Regions from separate parts of the Homo sapiens genome. Here all the other regions are reported to be linked to region 1. Evidence: microRNA targets listed by miRTarBase, many of them from high-throughput screens and not tested one by one. Region 1 holds a microRNA gene; each other region holds the end of a gene's coding sequence.

The links. The annotated mature microRNA hsa-miR-5092 reads AAUCCACGCUGAGCUUGGCAUC and lies in region 1 at 2,794-2,815, opposite strand. An mRNA with a match to its seed (bases 2 to 7 or 8) in the 3' UTR can be bound and repressed. Matches are read on the target gene's strand: a 7mer-m8 pairs with bases 2 to 8, a 7mer-A1 pairs with bases 2 to 7 and ends in A, and an 8mer does both.
Region 2: the mRNA of FBXL14 is a reported target of hsa-miR-5092. Seed matches in the 3' UTR shown: 7mer-m8 at 427-433.
Region 3: miRTarBase lists MRTO4 as a target of hsa-miR-5092. Seed matches in the 3' UTR shown: 7mer-m8 at 1,178-1,184.
Region 4: miRTarBase lists CLN6 as a target of hsa-miR-5092. Seed matches in the 3' UTR shown: 7mer-m8 at 828-834.
Region 5: miRTarBase lists ZSCAN25 as a target of hsa-miR-5092. Seed matches in the 3' UTR shown: 7mer-m8 at 3,632-3,638 and 8mer at 3,605-3,612.

The regions. Positions count from the first base shown.
Region 1 is chr3:125,148,682-125,154,865 of GRCh38, forward strand. MIR5092 (microRNA 5092) reads right to left here and starts at 2,871; the gene lies at 2,784-2,871. All of the region lies in intron 5 of SLC12A8 (solute carrier family 12 member 8), which reads right to left. RefSeq lists enhancers at 160-249, 360-549, 570-639, 5,462-5,963.
Region 2 is chr12:1,561,103-1,567,147 of GRCh38, reverse strand. It overlaps FBXL14 (F-box and leucine rich repeat protein 14), which reads left to right. Exons shown (of 2, transcript NM_152441.3): 2 at 338-1,155. The coding sequence ends at 400. Among named protein-coding and RNA genes, the nearest start is that of FBXL14, 30 kb to the left of the region's middle.
Region 3 is chr1:19,258,394-19,262,393 of GRCh38, forward strand. It overlaps MRTO4 (MRT4 homolog, ribosome maturation factor), which reads left to right. Exons shown (of 8, transcript NM_016183.4): 7 at 84-160; 8 at 288-1,735. The coding sequence ends at 437. Among named protein-coding and RNA genes, the nearest start is that of MRTO4, 8.6 kb to the left of the region's middle.
Region 4 is chr15:68,202,695-68,208,835 of GRCh38, reverse strand. It overlaps CLN6 (CLN6 transmembrane ER protein), which reads left to right. Exons shown (of 7, transcript NM_017882.3): 7 at 426-1,844. The coding sequence ends at 696. It overlaps CALML4 (calmodulin like 4), which reads left to right and starts at 3,504. Exons shown (of 5, transcript NM_033429.3): 1 at 3,504-3,591; 2 at 3,685-3,715. The coding sequence starts at 3,589. RefSeq lists an enhancer at 2,511-2,805.
Region 5 is chr7:99,628,556-99,634,739 of GRCh38, reverse strand. It overlaps ZSCAN25 (zinc finger and SCAN domain containing 25), which reads right to left. Exons shown (of 8, transcript NM_145115.3): 8 at 2,332-5,549. The coding sequence ends at 4,720. Among named protein-coding and RNA genes, the nearest start is that of ZSCAN25, 15 kb to the right of the region's middle. RefSeq lists an enhancer at 4,257-4,903.

The DNA.
Region 1 (6,184 bases):
CACTCTCTGCATGCCCACTGTCAGCCCAGGACTTCCTGCCTTGTTCTCTGGGTCTGTAGCTGGCTGCCTTGCTCCCCACCCAAATGTGAGTGACTTGAGGGCACATATCCCACTTTGTGCTTTATACAGACCCACCATCCTGCCTCCTACCCCAGGAGGTACCCCCAAAATGGTGAAGCCAGAAGTGCCTTCAGGGACGCTTCTACAGTCACATGGAGAGTAATCTGCAAATTCCCCACAGCCAGGGGACACCTGCCACGTGCAGTGAGAGGAACACAAACCAGCAGCGGGGGGGCACAGGCAGGATGTGTCGGCCCACCCCTCAGCGGTCACCCATCGCTTCCTCGGAACTCCCAGCTGCTCAGGGCTGAGGCGGGCGAGGCTCAGAAGTGTGGAAGGGCCCTCCCCAGCTGGTGACTGCATGTGGCAGGCATCCATACCCGGAACGCCCAGCCAGGGAGTCGGGCCAGCCCATCCCTCCTGCTCACAGAGTCACAGAGTGGGAGCAGACTCGGGGGTCGAAGCTGGGCAGCGCTCGCTCGCACTTCCTTCTGCAAACTTGACCAGGTCCCACGGCCTCTTCAGCCCATGGCTCCTTTCTCTGATCCCCAAGCCAAAGCCAGCAAATGAGAATAATCCAGTAGAGACAGCTGGGTTTTGGGATCAGGGTAGGGGCTCAGAGCCAGGGGTCTGGGATTCTGGTCAGTCAGTTTTTCTTCATCAGAATCAATCTCAGAACAAGAGGGAGGCCTAAGGCATGCCTGCTGCTGGCCAGGGGTGATGGGGACCACTGCCCACAGAAAGCCTTCTAACAAGGGCTGGATCCAAACAATCAAGGAACAAGGATGCCTAAAGCATTAGTTTCTCATCTAGCCAGAGAAATATTAAATGTGCAACTCACATAATTTTACAAACAAGAACCACCAACATAAAATAAGTGGAATATTGAAAATATTCAACAGGTAGAACAAGTCAAAGAACATGCTTTGCTTCCTATTCAGGCCAGGAAGGGAGAGAAAGAGAAGAAATGGAAGGTGAGGAGGGATGGGGAGATGGCAAAGTGGGGGCAGAGGGGAAAAAGAGAGACAAAAGGATTGGGGAGAAAAAACAGAGAGAGAAAAGCATAAAGGAAGAAAGGATGAGGCACAAAGAAAAGAGGAGGGAGAGCAGGTGGATTTTGGGGAATGCTGGACAATTGGTCAGGCTTGGTCTGCAGAGGCTCAGAAATCCTTACCTGGACATGAGCCTTTGTTTATAATTCTTCACTGTTCTAACCCTGAAAAGTACCTCTGTTCTAATCCTTAATCTTTCCCCCTTCAGGTCAAGAATGCCTTTGAGAATCTGGCAGTAGTTCTGAACCCTGTCCTAGAAAAATACACTTATTTACATACAATTTTGCATGCAACTTCAGGGGCTCAAGGACTCTATGTTAAAAATACTTATTCTAGAAGCTCCACTCTGATTGGGAGACCCATAATGGCCAAAGCAAAAACACCTCAATTGCCAGATGAAACTAAAATGAGGGTGGGATGTGTTGTATTCAAGTCTTCACATTGAGCTTTAATCATACCATTGGCTTCAGTGACAGAATTTAGGGCCTAAGCACCTTCTCCTGGTTACTACCCCAACAGTCATATTGGAAGCAAGGCTGGTTACTCCAAGGGGTCCATTGTGTACATGGATGGTTATTTCGCAGTAAGGGGCCTGTCAAAGACAGGTAACAATGTGTGAGTCAAATTAACCCTTTACAGATCAATAGGATTAGTAAATCCCATATACGTAGTAGTTTCCAAATCTGAATGTACATAAGAATTTCCAGTATGCTTACCTAAAATGTAGATTACTAGTCCAAAATTTGAGAGTATGGATCAGACTGTTTTTCTAATGAGTTTCTAGATAATTCCGATACAGGAAATCTCCAAACCAAACGCTGAGACACACTGTTCTCAGAGAACATTGCAAGCCTGAGAGGCTGAGCTTCTGGTCCCACAGGTCAGCTGATTATCTACTCCTTGCAGTGCGATTCTTGTACACTAGGGGGTAGGACTGAGCACATATACAAGGGCACCGCAAGACGAGGTTTGGACTACTGCATCAAAAAGGCTACCTTTACAGGGGAAAATAGAATGAGCAATGCAGAACATGAAAGGTAGAGTGCCAGGAGAAACCTTCCAAGGGCCTCGAAGACAGTAGTTCCCAGAGCTGACTTAAAAATCATGATAAAAAACTACCTGGAGCACTTCTTACAATCCAGATTCCCGGGCCTCAGGCTATTAGGAAACGCGCTCACACACACACACCAAGTTTCCTCAGGGATTCTGATACACACGCAAGTATCACAACTTGTTTGTTTATGGCACTTCAAGCCCAAGGGTATTTTGATCACTATACCAGACCATTATCATAAAGACGCTTCGAAAAACTAAAGTGCCCTTATAATTCTAAAGCAAAAAACAGTGAACATTACCAGGGTTTTCTTCTTCTTTTCTCTTCCTCTTCCTCCCCCTCTTTCTTTTTCATTGAGGAGGCTAATTGGAGAAGGTGGGCCACGCTGGAATGCCCTGAATGGGTTCCAGATGGTGAAGTCATTGGCCTCTTGGCCCAACTGTTCCTCCCTTTTCCCTGGAGTGCTGTACAAATATTATCATTTTCTGGCTGTGCAGTGACATAAAAATGGTTGAGAGGCTCTAGGTCAGGTGTAAAAGAAACTCATGGAAAGGGAAGAACAGCTCGGTCCAAAAGAAATTGTGGAGATACTTTCCGATTCTCTGCAAGGTGGAGAATCCCAAATCAGATGCCAAGCTCAGCGTGGATTGGTTTGGGCTCATCATGTTGTCCAGTCCCCACTGGCTTTGGCATCTGATCTGGGATTGTGAGGGGGTGCGGTAGGTCTCAAGAGAAATGCTGAAGGGGCAGCCCTGCTTCCGGCTGCTTAGCAGAGTGGTGGCGACAGGGAAACCCAGGCACAGATTGCAGATCCTCCGCCCAGGGAGGATGACCACGATAACAAGACTGTCTTACGTTTATTTAGAATCTTCCTTTGCCAAGGCAATCGTATTTATAGTAGTTGCTCATTTTGAGTATAACTTTTTAAAAACATTTTGATTTTCTGAAATTTGGATGTCTTACAAGCAACATGAGGACTTAATGTAAGGCTTTTTTCCACCTGAAAATTTGGTGTGAATTAAAATTGATGGTGACTTGGAATTGAGGAAATACGTTTTATTACATCATTTAATCTCTAAATAATCTGTGAGGCAGATATTATTATTCTCTATTTTCTAGAGGAGGAAACTGACGCTTAGGTGATTTCCCCAAGGTCAAGGATTGAGAAAGTGGCAGAGCCAGGACTAAAATCCAGGTTCCAGTATTTCTTCCCTGATAATGTCTGAGCAGATTTGTTCATACACTAGGAATTTGGGATTGCAGAGTAATTGCTCCAGAACTGCTCCAAAAACTGGCTGCCACCCACAGTTACTGGGGCAGAGAAAGCAAGAAGTGACTTTCCTTTTGCTTCAAGTAGAAATTTGAGGGAAAAGAAATAGAAATGTATATAGGTTTGTATGGTGGCTGTTTGTTTGCTTTAGGCCATAACAGAAGTCCCTTGATTACTTCAGGAGCTTCAGAATGTACCATGCTCATTCCTCATACCACGATCACCTCTGGTACGTGTGAGTTTAAAATGGTGCTCATTCGGTCATTACAGATTTACTGTTTGAATTTGTTATTTTATTTACTTTAGAATGCTTTTCATTTTTAGCAATCAGGATTCTAGAGTGTCATATCTTTAAAAGTCTAGCATTTTTATTTCTGCCAGTTCAAGAGGATGCAGGAAGAAGTTTAACAGAAGAAACCGTCTTCAAAATAATAAAACCCCAAAATTATTCTCTACAATATCCAGTAAGTGCTGATTTTCTAGAAAACAGTTGGCAGGGGGAGAGAGAGAAGGAACCACCCCTCCCCCCAAACTCAAAGAAAAAATAACTACTTTGGACATATTATTTCTAATCCTTTAAAAAACACTCTTCCAGGAGGGTATTTCTTTCCATTAGACAGATGGACAAACTCAAAGGGTTTCGGTGACTTGCCCACAGCCACACGGCTAACAAGAAGCATGTGTTCTGATAGCATTAATCAGAAAAGCATATATTGCTGACATGGATTCCCTGTTTCATGAGGGCAGGGACCATCGCTATCCTATTCTCCGCTGTATCCCAAAGCCTACCTCCTGGCACCCCGTAGGCTTTGATGACTACCTATAGGGTGGGAGGATGGGAGGAAGAAAGAAAGGGAGGCGGAACAGGTGTGTGTGCAGCCAGGCGCTCCGTCCACCCTGCCACTCCTCTTCTTTGGAGACAGTGCTCTGACAATCTGTTCCATCAACTCCATTCTCCTGCAACTCTCATCACACTTTCACAAGCTGCGCAGATTACGTTTCCTAGGACTGTGTCCATCCATCTGCCTCACTGGATGCTGATCCACTCTGGTGTGTTTCCCAGTCAGTCACTCAGCAAAGTGCAACCGAGAGCCAACCATGTGCCCGGTACTTTCCAAGATGCCAGGATAAAACGGCAATAATATGGGATTCCTGTGCTTGAGGTTTTTACAGCCTGAAAAACAATGACCTCTGCATTTCCTACTCAGCACCGCGTGCCATCAACATCCAAGGTATGGGGATTTTCTGTAGCTGCCTATCAAACTCTCTCAGCTACCACCAGTGCTTCTTTCTGCTATATCTGATGCCTTGTTTTGTTACTTTCAGAAACACCAAAGGATGGCCGCAATTGAGGGACTCTTCTCAATAGCATGTTCTTGTGCTTCTTCATTTAGGACACATCTCCCATGCTGGGAAGTACAAGACAAATACGAGGAGTTGGGCAAGTGTCGCACTAAGTTCTGCCCCTGGCTGGGCAGCCCACTGACTTCTAAGAGATAATGAAATTTATGTATTTATTTATTTATTTATATATTTTTTGAGATGGAGTCTCACTGTCTCATCCAGGCTGGAGTGCAGTGGTGTGACCTTGGCTCACTGCAACCTCCACCTCCCAGGTTCAAGCGATTCTCCTGCCTCACCAGGAGAATCTTGTGATGCTGTAAGATGATAAAATGCCTATGTGACGAGACAATGTGGGGCGGATGACGCAGGCATCGTGACATAGCACTTGGCTATTATTGGCCTTGAGCTCTGGACTAGCTGGGGTTACAGGCGCGTGACACCACACCCAGCTAATTTTTGTATTTTTAGTAGAGACAGGGTTTTACCATGTTGGCCAGGCTGGTCTCGAACTCCTGACCTCAGGTGACCCACCCACCTTGGCCTCCCAAAGTGCTGGGACTGCAGGCATGAGTCACCATGCCCGGCCAGATGATGAATTTTAAAATCAAGTTTTATTATGGGGAAACTGAAGACCCACAGATATTGGGGTGCTGGCCTAGGGTCCCACAGACAGTGGTAGAGAGAATGCTGGCTTCAAGTCTCCCAGTGCAAAATACTTTAACTACCGTCCCCTTTCACTTCACTAGTCAGCAGCTTCGCAAACTGCATTTTCAATGCCATGCCCTACATGGGACTTATGTGTCCTGCTTGTTTTCTAATTCAGTCAGTGAAGAGCAGGCGGCCCCAGCAGCTGGAAACAATGTGAGCTTGATGGTTAAGGACATGGACCCTGAGGTCAGAAGCCAGGGCTCAAATTCTGGCTCCATTGCTTACCAGCTGGATAACTGCTGGGCAATCTAACCTCTCTGAACATCAGTTATCTCATCTTTATCATGGGGACAATAACACACAGGGACTCCATAGATAGGATATAGTGAGATGTATAATGCTTAGTATAGCACCTGGCACAAACAGAATGCTCAATAAACATTAGCTATTACAGTATCCCCCCTCCCTTATCCATTAGGGGTACATCCCATGACCCCCAGGGGATGCCTGAAACCAAGGATAGTACCTAACCCTATATACACCACGTTTTTTCCTATATATGCATACCTATGGTAAAGTTTAATTTATAAATTAGGCACAAGAAGATATCAACCACAATAATTAATAATAAAATAGAACAACTCTAACAATATACTATAATAAAAGTTATGTGAACGTCTCTCTCTCAAAATAGCTTACCATGCTGTATGCACCCTTCTTCTTGTGATGATGTAAGATGATAAAACGCCTACGTGA
Region 2 (6,045 bases), not on the chromosome of region 1:
CTTGATAGTGGCTGTGACCGGGTAAAGGCAGCTGCTGTAAAGAGGCCGTGAGTGTGCGGTGGGAAGGTCTACTCTATAGTCTACAATCAGGCCTCAGAGTTTTGGTGAGCTTGCACCCCTCAGCTGAACATTCACAAATGAGTCTCCGTCCTCCCTCCCGCCCCCACCTTAAGTGAGCCGGGAGATGGCTAGAGTGGGCTGGCGTGGGAGTTTCCCTTCCCCCAGGTCAGTTAGGCGCTGATAAAGCCGCGGTGGGGTTAGGGGAGGCGACCTCGTTAGGAAGAGCAGAGTGCGGCAGTCTCTTTCAAAATGGTCCTTTTTCTTCTTCCCACTGCAGGAGGCACGAGGGGATTTTTCTCCATTATTCACTGTGAGAACTCGGGGAAGCTCCAGAAGGTGAGGGAGAGGGGACAACGACATGGTTCCCGTGGATCTTTAACTTCCAGACTTGCCCGCTCTGCGCCTCCGGCACTCTGGTGATGACAGCTCAGGTTTCCCTGCCTGTCACTGCTCGGGCAGAGGCTGCTGCCCAGGGCTTCTGCTCCGGTACCTTGTGAAGCTGCATTCTCCTGCCGGTTTCTCCAGTTCTGGGGACAGTGGTTTGCTCTGAGACCTCGCTTCCTTTATGGATCCAAGGAGACTTGCTTTTTCAGTCTGTTCAGCTTTTTACTTGCTAGGATGGAATTGCAATTTGCAAGCTTCTTCGACAGGAAACTACAAGTTCCACACTTTAATTTTATACATATAAATATATACATGTGTACATATATCTATGTACAGGGGTATTATATATATACATATAAGATGATGATATATATAATGATGATATGTATTACTGAGAACGTAAAATATCATTACATAGTGATAGCTGGACACACAAGGAATTCACAACTCCCCAAAGAAAATACATCTGGATGACCTGCCTAGCAGTTTCCCCATGAGATAGAGGAATGTCTACGTATTTCATTCCCTGTTCCTGCCCTGAAACAATTTCAATCACTGACAAATCATTATCATTCATTAATAATGTTTACTGAGTGCCCATATGTGAAAGAAATCCACTCTACATTCCACAGATGCATTTCCTCTCCCCACGGGGTTTCCATTTTAATGGGAACAATGTAGAATATATCTGTCTTCCCTTTATAGATTCCATTTGGGTTTTTTGTTGTTGTTTCTTGTTCTCTCTCTCTCTCTCTGGTCCAGAGGAATAATTTCCTGGTTTTGTAAACTAAACCGGATCATGTCACTTCCATGAATCAGGGAATACTTAATGAAGGAGTAAGGATTTACAGAGGACTGGGGATAAGAGATGGAGGGAAGCTGAACAGAAGGCAAATGAAACTGGTTGAGCCTCTTCAGAACACACAACAATTCCTGGTGGTGAGTCAGTGTGGATGGGGGAATGGGACACCTTACATGGGGATCAATGAAGAATCACTGGGGTCAAAAAGAGCACATGTCAAGAAGATGTCAAACTGATGACAAGCAAATATTGCCCCAGTATTACAATTCCTGTTGCCCCATCTCAAAATTACCCTGTCAGTTTGATGGGATGAAACTCTCAGACCCCGTTTCATACCACAGACACTGAATCCCTATTCCACAGCTTAGGAAGTCCGAAGAAGTAGACGGTATGTGTGTCTTCCAAAGCTGTCTACCAGAGATGATCAAGGTGTTGGAGAACTTTTGTCTCTCTTAATTGTTCTGGTAACTGCTGTGTACAACGAGGCTAAACACTCACTGATAAGAATTCTCTCCCTGCTGCCCCAATGCAACTTCTAGATTGTACACTAGTACAAGAGTCCTAACGCAGTAACTTGCCTACACGCAGAAACTGGCTGACCTGGGCTTTGGGTGTAGGAACCCTTCCTAAAAACATGAGTATCATCCAGGAGTCTAAACAATTTGATGGGTAGACCTTATATTGAATTACAAAGGTTTAGGAGTAGGAATTAGCTAGTCCAGTGGTTTTTTAAAAAAAATGTTTTTAAAGAAGGAGAACTCTATTTTTCCACTAAAATCATATGTTGAAGCAAAACAAATAACATTTATGTAGTTGAAAATTGGGTAGGAGAGGAGATCTCCACTGGCCCCTAAGTAAGAACTGTCTCAAAGTTCTGTCTCGAAAACCACTTATCTAGCCCAATTCCTCAATTTTTATTGTTTTTTGTTTGTTTTTATTTGTATTATTTATTTATTTATTTTTGAGACGGAATTTGACTCTTGTCACCCAGCCTGGAGTGCAGTGGCACAATCCCCGCTCACTGCAACCTCCACCTTCTGGGTTCAAGTGATTCTCGTGCCTCAGCATCCTGTGTAGCTGGGATTATAGGCACACGCCACCCCATCCGGCTAATTTTTGTATTTTTAGTAGAGACAGGGTTTCGCCCTGTTGGCCAAGCTGGTCTCCAACTCCTGACCTCAGGTGATCCACCCACCTTGGCCTCCCAAAGTGCTGGGATTACAGGCATGAGCCACCGTGCCTGGCCTATTTTTATGTTTTTAAACAAGGTGTTGCCCTGTCACCCAGGCTGGAGTGCAGGGGCACTATCATAACTCACTGCAGCCTTGAACTTCTGGCCTCAAGCAATCTTCCCACCTTGGTCCCCCAGCAGTGCTGGGGTTACAGGCACGAGCCACTGCACCCTGCGCAATCCCTCCATTCCTATAGGTGAGGAAATGGGAACACAAAGAAGGCAGGTAAATTACCCAGGGTTACGGGACTAGGGGTAAATCTGGTTCCTGATGCTTAATCCTTTGCTCTTTCTACTATAACCCCCATCTCTGAGAATCTATTCTGAACCCATGGAACTACACGTGGTGATCTTAAGCCACAAAAATTACTGACACAGTGTTTTCATTAAGGACTCCCCCTGCCCTGTCCATTTCCTGAGAATGAGAGGTTTCTAGTTCTTTGTACCACATTAACTCCAATTGGTAATTCTGAATTCCTTCTTGGCAGAAGTAATATAGATCAGATTCCATTAAATGTATTGCTACAGAGAAAATTTACTTTTTAAAAAAATTCAAACCCAGCTTATGGTCTACAGACTTCAGTAAGATTTAATCAGCAACAGTTTAGTATTATACTGCAAAAGAATTTGGATGGTGTTTGGGACATTACTATAAATAGGTTTTGCCTATATTGCGTATATTGGCCTCATGTTGGCACCTTCAGTAATTCCGACAGCAGTTGGCTTCCAAATCCCTCACCATAAAAGTGGTTGCATATTATGAAATCCAACACTGATATCCCAGCATCCCAAGGAGTTCATCCCTATATCTCATTTAGTTATCTTCCAAGTAATCTGCTGTGATATGCAGTTTGCTACCCTGGCACAGACAGGAGGAAAAGAACCATCAGCCGCCCTAAGCCTGCAGTTCTGAGGCTCCCCCAAGGCTTCGATGGGCCTTTCTAGGAGGTGGCTCTGTGATTCCAGCCTCAACACCAAGGAATCTTGGGTTATTTATGAGATCAGAGCCCTTATTAATGTAATTCTGTTCAAGGCAATTTAAACGAATGAAATAGGCATGATGGTGCACGCCTGTGGTCCCAGCTACTTGTGATGCTGAGGAGGGGGATCACTTGAGCCCCAGAGTTTAAGGCTGCAGTGAGCCACGATGGTCCCACTGCACTCCAGCCTGGCAACACAGCAAGACCCTGCCTCTGAAACATTTTTTTTTAATTTAAAAAAAGAAGGGAAGATAAGTGAGAATTTGAAAGCAATGACAGACATATTTGAAAGCTGCAGGGGCAGGTGGAGGCAGCCACGGAGGACACGGTGGGGCGTCAGCTTGTGGGGCCGGAAGTTCCGTGCGAGCACCTAGAGCGAGGTCTCTCATACTCGTTCCCACACCACTGAGATTGGCGTTTCACTAAGGACCGATTGAGGAAGCAACAGCAATGAAAAGGAGGCCACGAGGAATGAGGAAACTGTCTACATGGAGTATAAACTCAAGGCCAGCATCCAAGGAAAACATCAAATTGGAAAGAAAAAAACAGAAACATTTCAGATGGCGGAGCTGAAACTCAGTCTCTGGGATGTGGCGACTTCGGTCTCCCTCTCATGCCTGACAGTGGAGTCAGAACCCTGTCATTTTTAGAGGCTGGGTCCCTGGCACGCGATTCCTCTGGTACAAAAGAACCCACTCACTGCGCAAGTGGTCTGGGCAGGGGACTAGGTGTGTGGGGCCAACTCACATCCCTGACTCCTGTTTCTCAGCCATTAGCTCATATCTGAAACCTGGTATTAGAATAGTTCATGCCGGGACACTCTTTGAACTCTGTTTGCCCTAGTCCTGGCACTGCTGCCCTACAAAGGGAGGAGAATTTTAATAGCATTAAACACACACACACACACACACACACACACACACACACACACACACACACACACAAGGGAAAGAGGATGAAATACTTGTAAAGCTTTTGATAGTATCGAGTCATACACATATAAGCATGCAAGTGGTAGGAGTACTGAATGTTCTAGAACATACACAATACAAGTTGCAGTAGAACTACCTTTTACATTACCTCATGGAGCAGCAAGGCTATGTTAGAGCTGAGAACAAAACTGAGGCTTCTAAACATTTGGGGCTTTTGAATACCTCTCCCCATATATTGTTTTGGAATGACCCCCAGCTTTCTGAAGAGCACGGAGGGTGGAGCATGGCCATCCTGCAGCACTGTAGAAAGAGCAATGGGCTTTAGAGCTCAGTTATGCTGATTGTTTCCTGCGTGACATAGAGCAGACGACCTAGCCTCTGGTCCTGTTTCCTCATCTTTATTTATTTATTTATTTATTTATTTATTTATATTTTTTTGAGACAGAGTCTCACTCTGTCGCCTAGGCTGGAGTGCAGTGGCGTAATCTCGGCTCACTGCAACCTGCACCTACCAGGTTCAAGCAATTCTCCTGCCTCAGCCTCCTGAGTAGCTGGAATTACAGGTGCATGCTACCGCGCCTGGCTAATTTTTCTATTTTTAGGAGAGATGGGGTTTCACCACGTTGGCCAGGCTGGTCTCGAACTCCTGACCTCAGGTGATCCACCCACCTTGGCCTGCCAAAGTGCTGGGATTACAGGTGTGACCGTGCCCGGCCCTGTTTCTTCGTCTTTAAAATGAGAATATGAAAGCCTTCTTCACAGGGTTGTAGTTGGAATACACGAAATGAGATGATGTATGTAAAGCTTCTACTATAGTGCCTGGCGTATAGCAGATGCTTTGTTCATTTGATCAATATTAATTAAGCACCTTACTACATGTCAGGCACTGTGTGAGGTGCTGGAAATAAACGTTAGTAGGAACAGACCTGGCATCTGTCTCCTTGGAGCGTGCAGTGTAGCCACCTATTGTGTCACTAATAGTGGCACTTACTGTGAATGGCCTGTCTTGACTGAGGTGCACAGGTGGTACTTACACAGGTCACAAAGATGAGCAAAGTACAGGCACTGCTTCTGAACTGCTTAAATCTGATTAAAAAGCTAGGACAACCATAACCACATAATTGGATGCCTCTGCCACTAATTAAGTGATCTTGGGGAAATAATTTAACAATTTTGGACCTCAGTTTCCCCATAAATAAAATGAGGAGGTTGGACTGGATTAATGGTTCCCAAACGTGGCTGAGTATCACAATTGCCTGGGGAAGCTTTTAGAAGTACATATTCCAGGGACCCACCCCAGACTTGCTCATCGGAATCTTAAGTGTGGGGTTCAGGGATCTGTAGTAATTTTAAAAATGTCCCCAAGTGATCCAACACAGATATTTTGGTCTTAGTCCATATGTCAGATCCCTTTTAACGAAAGAGTTCTGGGATAAATTACTATAATCCAAAGCCGAAGCAAAGAGTGCCACAGAAAAGGCACCAATACAATATTGTGAGAGTTAGGAAAAGGCAAACATCTCAGGGGAGGCAGCAGCACTGAAGCGGAACTTGAGCTGGGCCTTGGATGAGGGCTGGAACCTGAACTTGAGGGGAGAAAGAAAGGGAAGAGTATGGAGAACTGAACCCAAACATTTGGTGAAGGACAGACTGCTT
Region 3 (4,000 bases), not on the chromosome of region 1:
GGATTCCTCCCAACATGACCAGGGCAGAGAGGGCTCTGCAGGCCTCTGGGCCAGAGGTAACTGAGAGCCACCCTCTTCTGCAGGTGTGGTGACTCTGCTGTCTGACTACGAGGTGTGCAAGGAGGGCGATGTGCTGACCCCAGAGCAGGCTCGCGTCCTGGTGAGTCTGGCGCCTTGCGGGCTGTTGCGGGCGGGGTTGCTGGCTTTCCTCTGCCTGCTGAAAATGCCCCCCTGCACTTTGAATACCTTCATTCCTCCTGATTCTTTGTTCCCTTTGTCTCTTGCAGAAGCTTTTTGGGTATGAGATGGCTGAATTCAAGGTGACCATCAAATACATGTGGGATTCACAGTCGGGAAGGTTCCAGCAGATGGGAGACGACTTGCCAGAGAGCGCATCTGAGTCCACAGAAGAGTCAGACTCAGAAGATGATGACTGAAAGGGACTCGGGACTGAAGGTCTCCTGGAAGCTTCTGGGTCTCACTGGACCATCAGGACTGCTGCCGCCCCTCTGGAGAGAGCAGCTTTTTATTTGTCTGTAGACAGGGAACATGATGGGCACTGACCTCCTGTAAAGAATAAAACTGTGGGCCGGGCGCGGTGGCTCACGCCTGGAATCCCAGCACTTTGGGAAGCCGAGGTGGGCAGATCATAAGGTCGGGAGATTAAGACCATCCTGGCTAACACGGTGAAACCCCGTCTCTACTAAAAATAGAAAAAAAAACTAGTTGGGCATAGTGGCATGTGCCTGTAGTCCCAGCTACTCAGGAGGCTGAGGCAGGAGAATCACTTGAACCCGGGAGGTGGAGGTTGCCGTGAGTTGAGATTGGACCACTGCTCTCCAGCCTGGGCAACAGAGTAAAACTCTGTCCCAAAAAAAAAAAAAGAATACAACCTTGCAGGATGTCTCTCCTGGAGACAGCAAGAGGGAGAGGAGGGAGAGGGCTCTTTCTTAGAAAAGAGGCCTTTGGTGAGCCCAGAAGTTTGAAACCAGCCTGGGCAATTCAGCAAGATCCCGTCTCTACAAAAAATAAAAAAAAATTAGTCGTGGTGCCACTTGCCTGTGGTCCCCACTGCTTGGGAGGCTGAGGTGGGAGAATTGCTTAAGCCTGAGAGTTGGAGGCTCAGTGAGCCATGATCATGCCACTGCACTCCAGCCTGGGTGGCCATTGAATTCTGCGTGGATTGCCTCAGTTTGCCTTGTCAGCCAACTTCCACTGGCTGCCTTGGCACTGCCATGACAGCACAGCTCCACACCAGAGCTGGGGTTTCTCTTCAGTCCTGGGTACCCCTTGGCAGAGGGATTTGCTGAGGAAAATTAGGTATCCTTCCTAGCCCTCCACACACTTCCAAACCAGGGCTGCGGATCTGATGGATGCCAGGAAGACAGCCTTGGGCTGAGAGTGACATCACTGCAAGAGTTGAGAGCCAGCGTCTAAAGTGTCCACGGCATCCTGGGAGGTTTTATCCTTGGTGACTCTAATGGTAGATTTTTGTCCACCTTGTTCTATTTGCTTTTGTTTGTTTTTGATTTTTCTGTTTTAAAATTTTAAGGAGAGATGGGGTTTCACCATGTTGCCCAGGCTGGTCTCAAACTCCTGAGCTCAAGCGATCTACCCACCTTGGCCTCCCAAAGTGCTGGGATTATAGGTGTGAGCCACCGCATCCAGCCCACATTGTTCTATTTGTATTTCATGAAAGCAGTTCTGAATGAGAGTAAATCAGCTTCAGGGTGTACAGTGGCCCTCTTTTTTCTGCCATGCATGGAAGAGGGCCACCTCCAGCCCTGCTGTTGGGAGGTCAGGCTGGGTCCCACGGTGTGGGGTGACCTTCACAACGGCATTGTGCCTCTGACACCCTCTCAGTGCCTCTGTTCTTTGGAGACTTCCTACTCCCGCCCACTTCTCACCACGCCCTTGGGAAGGACAGCAGGAAGCAGGCTTCGGGCAGAAGAGGAATTCACCATGTTCACCCAGGCCTAGGCCAGGTCAAGCACCAGCCTCAGCAGGAAGTGCTGAAGGAGAGCTCAGGCCCGGCCCTCTCGCCTTGTGAGGATGACTGGGAAGACTGCACGAGTGTAGGGGAGGATCTGCAAACCGGGCTGAGAGGGGAAAGCAGCCTACAACCATTTAAGGCCAAAACTGGCCAGGGGGAGAGAATGAAGGGTGGCAGGTGGTGCCCTCCGCACCTGAGCCAGGTCTAGCCAGACCTGGAGGAGGTAGTGGGATGGTCAGGTGCCAGGCTTGGTCGGCGGCCTCTGTGACAGCCGAGTCCAGGGTCCCTTTGCTGCTGCCAGTTTCTCCAATTGCTCCATCCAGGATGACCACGTCCCTATGCATGCCCTGTAAGGGAGACAGCTAGACTTCAACACATTTCTGCTGCACAGTGACTAATCATGCCCCTCCCAGCCATGGCCCCGCCGCTAACTGGGCTCTGGTTATTCACGTATGCCTTGCATTACTGCTTGCAAACAGCCATGACCGTTGGGCTTTAAAGCCCTGCCTCCACGCTGTCTCAGCTTTAGACAGCTGACTTCAGAGCCACTCATCTGCTGCTCAGCAGCTGGGTAAACCCAGGTCAGTCACCCAGCCTTTCAGCTTCAGACTTCAGGCCGCTTGTCTGAATTAGAAATTGTGTGAAGCACTTTGCCTGCAGACCAGGCACGTAACGTGCTCACTAAAGGGAAGCCATAACCATATAATACCCAAGCTGGAGAAGGGGGTTAGGGACAGCAGGGAGAGGGAAACCCTGCCACTACACACAGGGTTGGGCTGTCTCCAGGGTGGGCAGCCAAGGAGCCAGGAAAAGCTAATGGTTAAAAATGTAGGTTTCAGACCAGATGCAGTGGCTTGCACCTGTAATCCTAGCAATTTGGAATGCTGAGGTGGGCGGATTGCTTGAGCCCAAAGACTCAAGATCAGCCCAGGCTCAGGCCGGGCACGGTGGCTCATGCCTGTAATCCCAGCCCTTTGGGAGGCCGAGGCAGGCGGATTACGAGGTCAGGAGATGGAGACCATCCTGGCTAACACGGTGAAACCCCGTCTCTACTAAAAATACAAAAAATTAGCTGGGCATGGTGACGGGCGCCTGTAGTCCCAGCTACTCGGGAGGCTGAGGCAGGAGAATGGCTTGAACCTGGGAGGCGGAGCTTGCAGTGAGCCGAGATCACAGCACTACACTCAGCCTGGGTGACAGAGCTAGACTCTGTCTCAAAAAAAAAAAAAAGATCAGCCCAGGCAATGTAGTGAGACCCCTGTCTCTACAAAAAATACAGAAGTTAGTCACATGGTGGTGTATGCCTGTGGTCCCAGCTACATGGGAGACTGAAGCGGAGCATTGCCTGAGCCCTGGAGGTCAAGGCTGCAGTGAACCATGATCAAGCCACTGCACTCCAGCCTGGGTGACAAGAGGAAGACCTTGTCCCCCCAAAAAGAAAAACATTAGTTTCAGTCAAACCCACGTTCGTTCCCTACCATGTGTAGCTGTGGGACCCTACACAAGTGAAATTGCCTCTGAGCCAGTTGCCTCATGTAAAACTGAGATGACCATACTTAACATGGCCATCGCAATAACTAGTGTTGGTTACCTGGCCGCTTAAGTAATTTGTGTAAGAACAGGTTTACCCCACCCAAAAGAACTGGGCCATGGAGAGCCTTCATAGGAAGAAAAGGACTTAACTCCTCTTGGTCAAAGTGACCAAATGACTGCATAGCCCTCGCAGCTTCCCCAGTCTCCCCACCCCCACAGAATTTGAGAGAAGCAGCTGAGCATCTAGAGACAGCTGGGTTACCTGCAGCTTGCGAGTGGTCCATCGCAGGACAGTCAAGGCCATGCCAGGGGCACTGGTGCTATATACACAATCTGCAGGACCTGCTCCACCAGGGCCATGGCCTTGAAGTGGTGCTTGTTCCAGAAGCTGGGTTGGGGGAGGGTATTGCACGGGGGTCAGTACTAGGGGTCATCTCAGGGCGGTTGCCTGCACCCAGGTCCCTGAAGCACTGA
Region 4 (6,141 bases), not on the chromosome of region 1:
GTGGCAGCTACAGTGAGCGGGAAAGACGTTAGGGGAGCGCTTCCTGCTGGTTCTTACCCCGGCATCCTGCCGCGGGGGTGGCTGCCGTCGTAATGGCAATTGTTTGTTGCTTTCTCCTCTAGTCAGTTTTTGTTGTGTGGAAGTATAAACTTAATGTGACCAGAGAAGCCAGAAATATACATTTGTAGGTATTCTGTTATTTAAATATTGGCAACAAACTCAACATTTAAAAAACAGTAACTATACCAGCTAAATCAATATGCTGCCCATGGGCTGTGGCTTAGAGCGGCATAGTTCTCTGAGCCCTGGCACCAGAGGACTCTTCTGCCTGCCTGGAGGGCAGCCTGGCTCTCGCACACAGGAAGGGATGCCAGGCAGGACGGGGTTGCCACGGCAGCTGCCTCACTCACCCCTGGCCTTTCCAGGTACCTGGTCACCGAGGGCCAGATCTTCATCCTCTTCATCTTCACCTTCTTCGCCATGCTGGCCCTCGTCCTGCACCAGAAGCGCAAGCGCCTCTTCCTGGACAGCAACGGCCTCTTCCTCTTCTCCTCCTTCGCACTGACCCTCTTGCTTGTGGCGCTCTGGGTCGCCTGGCTGTGGAATGACCCTGTTCTCAGGAAGAAGTACCCGGGTGTCATCTACGTCCCTGAGCCCTGGGCTTTCTACACCCTTCACGTCAGCAGTCGGCACTGAGTCCCTGGCACCAGGCTCTGGCGCTCTGCTGGGTGGGAGGGTGGGCCATGGAGGGCATCTGAATACAGGAGTAGGGGGGGTGTGGGTGTGTAACCAGAGACCGAGAGCATGAGTGGGGTGTGCCTCGTGTGCGTGGATTCGTGTGTGTGTGTGTGTGTGTCTTGTATATGTGTGCGCAGAGTGCATCATTTTCAGACTCTACTATTTCCGTCAAGTTTCTGTTTGATTTGGATCATCTCAGGATCGGATTCTGTTTTAGAGTGTTTCTGGGCCAGGATCCGGGCCCCTGCCCTCCTCTGCACCTGACCACACTCCCTACTCAGGGCTAGTCTGTTCTTCCCGGACATCTTCTGGTAGCCGTGCAGGAGAGGGCTGGGTGGGGCAGAGGCCAGGAGGGGACCTGGTGTGTCACCTGCCCACCACCTGGCTCATCCCTCAGGCCCACCCTGACCCTACATTACATAGGTTACGTCAGCCTACTGTGGCTGTTGAGCAAAGCATTTCTCCTTTCTGGGCCTCATTTGCACTAGATGGGCCTGTGGTCCCAAAGTAGGTCAGTAGGTTGGGGTTGCTGACACCCCTTGGGTGCAGCTTTGGGACAGATGAGTGGCTCTGTCCTGTCACTGCCCTCTCCCTGCCTGGGGGCTATGTGCACTCCAGACCCCTGCCCAGGCTCAGGCCCATGAGGTATGGAGACACCCTGGCCCCCAGGAGCTGGAGGCACCGCCCACTCCCCTGGCATTCCAGCTTTGCAGGTGACCCTCCTCTACCCAAAGCTCTGTCCCCCTGCTCCCACTCCAGAAGAACTGCGGCACGCGCTTCGGGCAGCCTAGCCACAGGCTTTGAGCGCCTGCATTCCTGGGGGCTGGAGGGTGGGGTGCCAAAGGCCCTGAGCAAAAGCCAGAGCTCCTCTCATCAAAGCCTTTACAAGGTGCTGGGCCCAGAGGCTTTGCCTTGACAGAGTGGCCCAGGGTTTCAAGGGAGGAGGAACCTCCCCCTACCTAGGACCCTTCCTGTGGGGGGTCTACAGAGTCAGGGACAGAAGGGAAGGGACCCACAGGAAGTCACAGTGGTGCCCAGGGATGTGTCAGCCCCCAGCCACGGGGACGCGGGATTCAAGAATGAAGTAAATACAGTCACAGCCCCAAGTGGTGTTAGAGGTGTTTTTTGTCTTTTCTCCCTTTCGTGCTGAGGTGTAGCACACACGGTGCGCCCTACAGCATGGTGAGTTGCTGTATCGTGAACCCTCACGCAGCCATTGCCCCACGCTGGTGTTTTCCATCTGTGCGTCACCCCCGGAGACACCTACACACATAAGGAGGGAGTTGGCCGGGGCACCCCAGCACACACTGGCCTAACTCCAAGGAGGCACCTCATCTCTTCTGGAGCCCCTTCCCACAGGCAAGGGGATTCAGAGGGAGCATGTTGGCCTGGCCGCCTTCAGGCTTCCAGAGTCCCAAGTGACTTTCCTTGATGTCCTTCTCTCCATCCTCTGCACAGAGGCAGCCTTCCCTCCTCTTATCCCTGCCATGGGGTTTGGGAGGGGGAGCCTCAAACTCTGACAGGGAGGAGTCGGAGTCCCCAGCTAAAATTCTCTGGGTCTAGAAACAGGTGTAAAGCGATTCTGGGGATGTGATTTGGGAGAAAAGCACACTTTCCACACAGAGGCGGTCAGGAAAGGAGCGGGGAGGGGAGAGTGGGGCACAGGCAGCGCCTCCCGTCTATGCGCCTGTGTGCAAAGTGGCACAATGCCCCCCTTCCTATTGGCAGTGCAGCCCCTGGCCAGCAACCACTCGCACCTGGGCTGGGGGCCTTTGTGTAGGGCACACCTGTGCAGCCACACCTACTTGTAGAGCCTCATAGACTCAGCTGTGGACAAAAGCCTCACGCCCCAAACAGGGAAATGGGATCTCAAGGGGAAGAAGCTGGGGAGGCCTCACACCCTGCCCCCATTTCCTCCTATGTGGGGGAGGGGAGCAGCACGAACTCCTGAAGACTTGGGAGCGTCAGCAGCTTCTGCGGAAGGGGTGGGGCTGAGGGTGGAGAGAGGAAGGGAAGGAAGAAAAGGGGAGCCTTCCTGGCCAGGGTAACCGGCACTAAGAGGCCTCACTCCAAGCCCCCGAGGAGCCTGTGGTGGGGCTGGAGACCCGGCTCAGGCCCCTCCACCACCCTTAAAGTCCTCAGAAGGTGGGAACTGAACTGGCACAGGATGGGAACCGGCTGTGCGCTGGCCACTTGATTTTGCCAGCTGCCCTGTAATTCAGCTGGTGAGGAAACTGAGGCACAGACTGAGGTAGAATGATTCGCCAGTCACTCAGCAAGTCAGCAGACGGGGAGGACTGAATCCCAGCCTGAGAGCACCGAAGCTTGTATCCCTGCAATACCGAGCCCCAAGCCTGCGAGCCCCGGTGCCCATCTCTGAGTTAGGCCGTCTTGGAAGGGTTCCCTTCCTCCTACAAGATGGTGTGTGAGGAGCCTTCAATACGACCCGGGGTGTAAAGTGTCCAACTCTAGTAGGGGCCTGATGGCATCCCCGCCGAGTCCCAGGAGAGAGAGAGAAGACCCCTTCCTGGAGTCCAGGGCTCCCGGGAAGAAACACTGGCATTTGTCCCTTTGCTTCGGCTTCTGGAGGCAGAGACTCTGAGCCCAGGGAGAGCCTTCTGCAGCCCCATTTCCTCAAAAATCCAACCTGCCCAGGTGGCGGGTCATGAGCTGTGCTCAGGAAGCTGGAATCTGACCCTGGTGGCGTCGGGCCCAGTCTCCATGGCAGCCGAGCATTTATTACCCGGGCCTCCACCCAGCTTGGCAGACTTTAGACTTGAGGCTGGAGGAAAGGGAACTGAACGCGGTTCTGGGAGCAGCAAGCCCACGGGTAGCAGCCGAGGCCCCAGAATGGTGAGTGTGAGGGTCTGTGTCGGCCTGGCCAGGGCTGGGGGCGTGAACCTCAGGTGGAGCCCTCCCCTGACTGTTTTCCTTTCTCTGCTGCAGGCCAAGTTTCTTTCCCAAGACCAAATTAATGGTAGGTTGGGTTTGTTCTTTGATTAGCAACTCAGCAAAATATGGGTCTCATTAGGCAATTTGCTCTGCTCATGTTTTCTTGGTGGGAAGGAAGGTGGCTGTGGGAGAGCTGGGCCCACCCAGGGCCAAGAGCTGCGGGGAGGCTGCTGTTGGCGGGGTGGGGGTTGGGGGTAAGCCTCCAAAATAGACATGTGGCTTTATACTTGTCAGTGTGACTTACAAGCCAGGGCGCTAAGACAGAACTTACTAGGTTTCCCTCCAGAACCTGACCAGTTGGATTTGGGGACTGAGGGGACTGGGGATGGAGAGAGAGACCATTAAAGGTATGGCTGGCAGCAGGGAAAGAGGAGGGGCTTTGTAATTGAGACAGAACAGAGGCCAGGTCTGCACTCTCTGGCAGGATGCGTCTACTCTCTGCGCCTCAGTCTCCCTATCTGTAAAATGGAGGGTCCACTGAGCCCCCTTTGCCCTGGCATCAAGCCTGGTTTGGGCGTGAGCACTTTATTCCCTGGGTCCCCTACTCTGCCAGCCCTCGACCAGGCTTCAGTTTCACACCGTGCAGGGTTCTATTTCCAGAAGGCCAAGAGCAAAGAGTTGCGTTACAAAGAACTTGGGGGCCCAGACCTGAGCCAGGGGAGCCTCATGGCTGCAGCCCCCCTGCACCTGGCAGGAGAGGCCCAGGAGGCACAGCCAGCTGCTGCTTGAGGTTGTGACCCTGAAACCTGTCCCAACAGTGGACGTCAATGGGCCTGAGAGTCCCCCGAGGCATCCCATTCCTCCAGGTCTTTGCTGAAACATCGCCTTCTCAGTGAGTCCTTCGCTGACCACTGGAGATAAAATTACAGGCACCTTGGGCCCTTGTGATCCAGGGTAGGGTCCTGAGAGCCCAGCCAAGTGGGGTTAGGGTTACCTGGGCAGGAGTTCCAGAGTTCTGGGTATTCTGAGCTTGGTCCAGAGGGGCAGGAATTGTGAGCTCCAGGTGGGCACCTCCACGTAGAACCCTGGAACTCTTTATCCCAAGAGGAGGGCCAGGGCAGGAGCAGGGACTTTTAAAACACAGGGCCCGGGGCAGTGCCCTCTTGTCCAGGTCTAACGGTGATAATGAATGGTGGACTGAGGGCTGGAGTCCAGCCTTCAGCCTCAGCATCCTCCCACCCATGCCTGGTTTTGAGGCTCACTGACCCTCCCTCCTGGGATAGCCAAAGCTCCCAGAAGGGAAGAAGGTAAATTGTCTTTGTATCCCAGTATCTGACACCAAGAAAGTGGCCACCAGTGTTTAATGAGTGTGTGAAAGACTGGATGGGGTGGCCTAGCGAAGTGGGAAGAACAGGGGCTTTGGAGGCAGCAGACCTGAAGCCTAATCACCCTTGAGCCTCGGTTTTCTCACCTATGAAGTAGGATATGCCACCTTACCAGGCTGCTGCGAGCCACGGACAGAGGGGAATAATGTCAGTTACATGCTGGACGCTGGGCCAGGCATAGCCAGGTGTCACCCACATGTGGGCTGGGGCTGGCTCACTACAGCTAGCAAGAGCCATAGTTTTAGGAATTTTGCAAGCAGGATGTTAAAGCCAGCCATTATTAAATAATGTAGGATCAAACAGTGTTTCAATCCCTACATCTATCTGTACAAAAAGTTAAAAAGACAGCCCTATTGTGATCAGTGGAGATGGAGATTTGAAAGAAGTTTCAATTTAATGAATGTGTTTGGTAAAAGGGTGAGAAATAGTTTAACAGTAGATCACATCAGGTTTAATGACCATTCATTCATTGGAAAAAGAATCGCACTCATTGGCGCGCAGCTTCATTTGTCAAATCATGGTTGAATCGAAACTATAGGTTGGCAATGGATATAAGAGTTGGCAAAACTTGGGCTGAGTGCAGTGGCTCACGTCTGTAATCCCAGCACTTTGGGAGGCCGAGGCATGTGGATCACCTGATGTCAGGGGTTTGAAACCAGCCTGGCCAACATGGTGAAACCCCATCTCTACTAAAAATACAAAACTGGCCAGGTGCAGTTGGCTCATGCCTGTAATCCCAGCACTTTGAGAGACCGAGGGAGGCAGATCACCTGAGGTCAGGAGTTTGAGACCAGCCTGGCCAACATGGTGAAACCCTATCTCTACTAAAAGTACAAAAATTAGCCTGGTGTGCTGGCAGGCACCTGTAATTCCAGCTACTCAGGAGGCTGAGGCAGGAGAATCACTTGAACCCAGGAGGCGGAGGTTGCAGTGAACCGAGATTGAGCCACTACACTCCAGCCTGGGCAACAAGAGCGAGACTCTGTCTCAAAAAAAAAAAAAAAAAAAAAAAAGCCGGTCATGGTGGCACATGCCTATAATCCCAGCTTCTTGGGAGGCTGAGGCAGGAGAATCACTTGAACCTGGGAGGTGGAGGCTGCAGTGAGCTGAAATTGTGCCATTGCAC
Region 5 (6,184 bases), not on the chromosome of region 1:
CTGCAAGCTCCGCCTCCCGGGTTCACACCATTCTCCTGCCTCAGGCTCCCAAGTAGCTAGGACTACAGGTGCCCACCACCATGCCCAGCTAATTTTGTTTTTTTATATATTTTTAGTAGAGATGGGGTTTCACTGTGTTAACCAGGATGGTCTCAATCTCCTGACCTTGTGATCCACCTGCCTCGGACTCCCAAAGTGCTGGGATTACAGGCGTGAGCCACCGCGCCTGGCCAAATTTTTGCATTTTTAATAAAGACAAGGTCTCACCATGTTGTCCAGGCTGGTCTCGAACTCCTGGCTTCAGGTGATCCGCCCGCCTCGGCCTCCCAAAGAGCTGGGATTACAGGCGTGAGCCACCGCACCTGGCTGAAACCAGCTTATTTTTTAAGAAACAAAGGTTCTCCTTGCCTCTCAGCTGGGATAAAACAGGTACTGAAAGTATTTTAAGCATAATCAGCCTGCAGACAACACCCATAGCACACACTATGACATGGACCAAACTTTCTTGATGAAATATTTCCCCAGGACAGACCTTAGGCAGTTACCTGGTTCTACCACCACCCAGGGGAGAAAACAGAGTTTCTCTTGCAAAGGACAACAGCCTCCCTCATTACCCAGCAGCACGGCACATGCAGCCAGACACTGAAGGTGTACAGCATCATCACAATGTGAGGCAACCACAGATGCCTTGTCATACAAAAGGAGGCCCATCTATGAGTTGACCAAATACCCGTTTGACCTGGAGAGTCCCGGTTTACACCACTGTCCCAGCATAATAAATAGCACCCACTTTCACTCTCAAAAGGGGCAGGAAATACGGAACATTTGCCTGGAACATCTTGTCATGCCAGAAAGCAAAGAAGCTGTCAATGAGAATTAGGGTTATGTCAAAAGGATTCAGGAGCCAAGGTCCAGGGGCCTCCACTGGTCAAAGGTGAAATAATTTGAGCATCAAATTATAACTCCAGCAGACTGATCAATACCAAGTATGTTTAAATCCATGAGTGCAGGCCAGGTGCAGTGGCCCACACCTGTAATCTCAATACTTTGCAAGGCCAAGGAAGGGGTAGCACCTTAGCCTGGCAGTTTGAGGCTGCAGTGAACTACAATTGCACCACTGCATTCCAGCCTGGGTGACAGAGCAAGACTCTGTCTCAAAAAAACCAATAAAAGCAAAAAGCTATGAATGCATTGATTTCTACAGACTTGACTGCCTTTACAGGAAGCAAAAAGTAACTAGCTCATTATTCTGAAAACAGGCAAATAAAGAGGAGGATCAAGCATTTTCTTGCCTTCCCTGTATGAACTATATCTAAGGGTAACCTAAGTTAATGAAGGGAAATTTCTTACAATATTCCAACTACTAAATGATGAAGCATTTACAGAACTAACGAAAGAAGCAGATCTAGGCTTCTAAAATCATATGAAGAGAAACAGGGCATGTCACAATCTATAATGTGTTCTTGCCAAAATGTGAAATATGAATCTGATTACACCACTAAACACTTCTACATTTTTAGATAATACAGAAGGCAGGGAAATATGTTAAATCACGCCATGGGTATGCAAACAGAAAATGCAGAATGATTAGCTGGGCATGGTGGCACATGCCTGTAATCCCAGCTACTTGGGAGGCTGAGGCAGGAGAATCGCTTGAACCCGGGACAGGGAGGTTGCGGTGAGCTGAGACTGTGCCACTGCACTCCAGCCTGGGCAACAGAGCGAGACTCCAGCTCAAAAAAAAAAAAAACAACAGAAAATGCAGAATGTAAAAAACTCTCCAGGATAAATGATCGAGTTTTTTAAAATGAATAAATCTCAAGAAGAAAAGGATAAGTACTACAGATTATAAGCCTTAAGAGACAAAGCAACAAATTATATTATATTGAAAAATTAGGTGGGTTCTTAAAATTCACTGGATATTTTGACATTAAGGAACTGTTTTGTTTTGAGACAGGGTCTTGCTCTGTCTCCCAGGCTGGAGTGCAATGGCACAATCAGGGCTCACTGCAACCTCAACCTCTTGGGGTCAAGTGATGCCCAGCCTCAGCCTCCTGAATAGCTGGGACCACAGGCATGCACCACCCATGCCCAGTTAATATTTGTTTGTAGATGAGGTCTCACTATGTTGCTCAGGCTGGTCTCGAACTCCTCTCAAGCAATCCCACCTTGGCCTCCCAAAGTGGTGGGATCACAGGTGTAAGCCACCACACCCAGCCGCCCTTACCTTTTACAGGTACACACTGAAATGGTTATAAACAACACTTGGGATACACTTCGAAACTTCAGTGGGGGAGGAAGACGGGGAGGAAGGAGTGGACAGAGATGAAACAAGATTGATTATGAGTTTATAATAAAGTCAAATGATAAATACATAAGGATTTATTTATATAGGTTTGAAATTATCTATTATAAAAAAATTTCTAAAGAATAGAAAAATACAGAAAACAAAATATTTCTTAACATTTGAATAGATATGAAAAATCAGACTACCACAATCCCATGGGAAAAACCCCCTACTTAGAGGCTTTTCTGAGACACTGTCCTAAGCTCTTGGCCCCACAGGAGATAGGGAAGAGGCCAGATAGGAAAGTCAGCAAGGCCCAGCTCCTTCTGAAGCTTAAGATATGCCAACTTGCTGAAACCCAGAGGAATGCTGGCTGTGTATGACAAAAGAGCATCTGTGATTCAGGTAATGACAAGCAGCCCCCCGAGGCCTCCCCAGTCCCCACCTGCCTTTGGAAAACCACCCTCTGGGGAAGGCCACACTCAGGCCAGAAGCCTCCCACTGAGTCTGCCTGGCTGTCAGCCCTGCCTAGCTGCTCTGATAATTACGGGGGAAAAAAAGCTGATTTTGCATGTGGACCTCAGTATTACAGAGGAGCAGCAGCAGCCCCGTGTGGACATCTCAGATACATTTACGACCCAGTCAGTGCAGCCTCGTGGGCACAGCTAATGAGCCAGGAAGACCAAGGAGCGTCATTTGCTAAGCCAAAATTAGACACCATGCTGCCTAACAAGAACAGGTGATAAAACCACGTTTCAAAGTGGGCTGAGTAATACAGCTTTGTGTTAGTCATTACCATTTACCTTATTTACAATGGAAAATGAAAAAAAAAAATCTCAGTAAAAGAATCTGGTATTAAGAGGCATCAGAAGACAAACCACATTTTGCAATTATAGGACACTATCAACAAAGGACAAACTCACTCACTCAGCCAGGGTTCAAAGGCACAGCACAATGACACAGCAGTCAGTCCACGCTAGTTATGCAGCTTCCAGAACTTTAAACAGAAATGAAACCCTTAAGTGATGGCACAATAAGGAAGCTTCAACAGTTTACAAATATTGCATCTTCTCATTTTTAAAGAAATGTATTTTTTTTTAATGCCTACAAATATCTTTATTTTTCCTGACTTGGCACTCATGCAAAACAGGTCGCTACCAGCTCATCATCCCCAGTGGGTGTCCAGGACCCCTAGTGCCTTGGATGACAAGGGTCTGGAGGGCAGAGACCATTTAGTAACAAGAGGTAGGTGACAAATGCATTTCAGGGCAAGATGCTGACAAAGCAATGAATACAGGCCCAGAGGATTTGCAGGAATATCCACGGGTTCTGAAGATCAGGTACATCCACGAGACATAAGCTCTACGAGGTCAACAGCTTCTCCCCCTATTTTATTCATGGATGTGTCTCAAGCACCCAGAAGAGTTCCTGACATGTTTGTTACAGGGCCTCAATAAATACTTGGGAAATGGGTCCAATGAGAATGGGGTGAAATTAATTTTATGAACTATAAAGTGCCATCAAATATAGGGCATTAATACTAGAGTTCATCTTTCAGACTCATTTTAATTATAACAGTTCTTTCTAGAGAACTGTTTTTTAAAATACTCTGATGTTTATTCAGTGATCAATAGCAAAATACTAACTTCCTAATAGTTGGTGTGTTGACAGTTGTTATAGTGCAAGGAATAATGGACGGGGAAGTTTTACAGATGAGGATAGAATGTTATAGCCTGACACAGATGAGGCTCCAAATAATGTAAAATTCACACAGTTGCCTGGGAGCAGATCCCAGCTGGGGAGGGAAGATCCAGCACGGGGCAGGAGGGCAGGAGTGGTCATGGGAAGATGTTCTCACGGGCACACAGCACAGATACCCTGAGAATGCCTCGGGTCATGGGCTGTCGCATGCATCCCCAACGCACAACCCCCAGAGGCATCACGTCTAGTCTCTCATTCACCACGGCATTCCCACGGCCAGGTGCTCAGAGGATGTTCAATAAATGTTTGTTCAATGGAAAAGAGAGGGGGTGGGGGAAGAGTCTGAGCTATGACCCTGCAGGCAAGACAGAGCCCTCAGGAAGATGAGGTCCCAGCTACCAACACGTGTCAAGGTTTTGCCTTTACTCCCAGCTTTGTTCGGCAGGGGGACACAGACAGTCCACTGAAGGAGAAAATCTCAGCCTGAACTGAACCGCAGGAGACTGCTTCCCTCAAACATTGGAAGAAAAATTGTTTAGCACCACTTGGGTAAGAGATGGAAGCAGCTATGCTCTCTGGAAGCTCTAAGTAAGCCAGGCCTTGCCTTTCCCGCGTTGGCGAATGGGTGGGAAGGCGATGGGACCAGTGCTTTCCTGCAGCCATCACCTTGCACCCCGCAAGGCCCTGCAGTGAGAAAGATGAATGATGGTGCTGCCTGCCACCTGCTATGCTCACTGCACCAGCGGCTCCTGGCGGTGCTGGGTCTTCTGGTGCCGGTTGAGGATGGACCTCTGGTTGAAGCTTCGCCCGCAGGCAGGACAGTGGTAGGGCTTCTCCCCTGTATGGATTCTCTGGTGTCGGACCAGCCGCTCCCCTTTGCTGAACCGCTTCCCGCACACCTGGCACCCATATGGCTTCTCGCCAGTGTGGGCACGCCGGTGCACCGCCAGATTGGCATTCCTGCTGAAGCTCTTGCCACACTCGCAGGTGTAGGGCTTCTCCCCGGTGTGCGTCCTCCGGTGCACCTGCAGGTGCTGCCTGCGGCTGAAGCTCTTCCAGCAGTCCCCGCACTTGTAGGGCTTCTCCCCAGTGTGGCTGCGCTGGTGCACCTCCAGGTGGTGTCTCTGGCTGAAGGTTTTCCAGCACTCGCTGCACACGTAGGGCCTCTTTCCCAGGTGGGTTCTCTGGTGCTTCATCAGGTATTCTCTCAGGGTAAAGCCCTTCCCACACTCCACACAGCCATAAGACTTCTCTTCGTGGGTTCGCTGGTGCCTGACGAGATTGGAGCTCCGACTGAATCCTTTCCCACACTCAGGGCACTGGAAAGGCTTCCAGAAGGAGCTGTGGGTTTTGACTTCGTCAGGCAGGGGGATGGCACCGTGCTGGGGAGGAGGAAGCCCAGGCGCACTGCCTGCAGGGCCACCAGGCTCCTGCTCACAGACCCTTCCGAGCCCAGGGCCCTGGAGAGAGGCTTCCCCAAACCTCTCTGATGTCAGTGCCACCAGCGCCCCTTTCAGGTCTTCCTGTGGGGGTTTTGCCTCCTTTTCCTTGCTCCCACCGCCTACAGGACAGGAGGAGATAAAGATTGATTCTGTGGTAGCCGCAGGACATTTACATGTTAGAACTCTGCTTCACAGGGGTCCCATTCATGGTTCCTTCTCTTTTTTCCTTTGACCAACAACCTCAACTCAGGCTTTCCTTACTTCTTTTTCCTTATTTCCACCTCCATGTCTTTTTACAGAATAGTCTGCCAAATTCCAGTGCCCGCCCACTTATCTTGCTGCTAATCTAGACCTTTACTTCTTACAAAATGTAGCTCAATAATTTCCTCTAAGACACTCACCACGATTATTCTCTTACTCTGGGCCTCTTCAGCACTGTGCACCTAACTAGCACTTTATTATTCTGTACCTATTTACATGTGACTTTGTTGGAAATGCTGTTTCCATTCATCCAGATGTCCTGCGCCTTCCCCAAACGATTCTACACCTGCTGTAGCACAGGGCAGCACACAGCTCTCCAGACCTTCCAGGTGCCTGCTCAGTCCCCTGTCCTGCCCACATGCTCCCTCTGCCTAACCAGGTTCATTCATCTGGGTCTCCTAGGAGCCTGGCAGGGGACTGACTCAGGGAAGATGCTTGCTAACTGCTGGCTGAATGAATGAAGCAGGCTTCACTGAGGCTCCTGCAGGAGAAC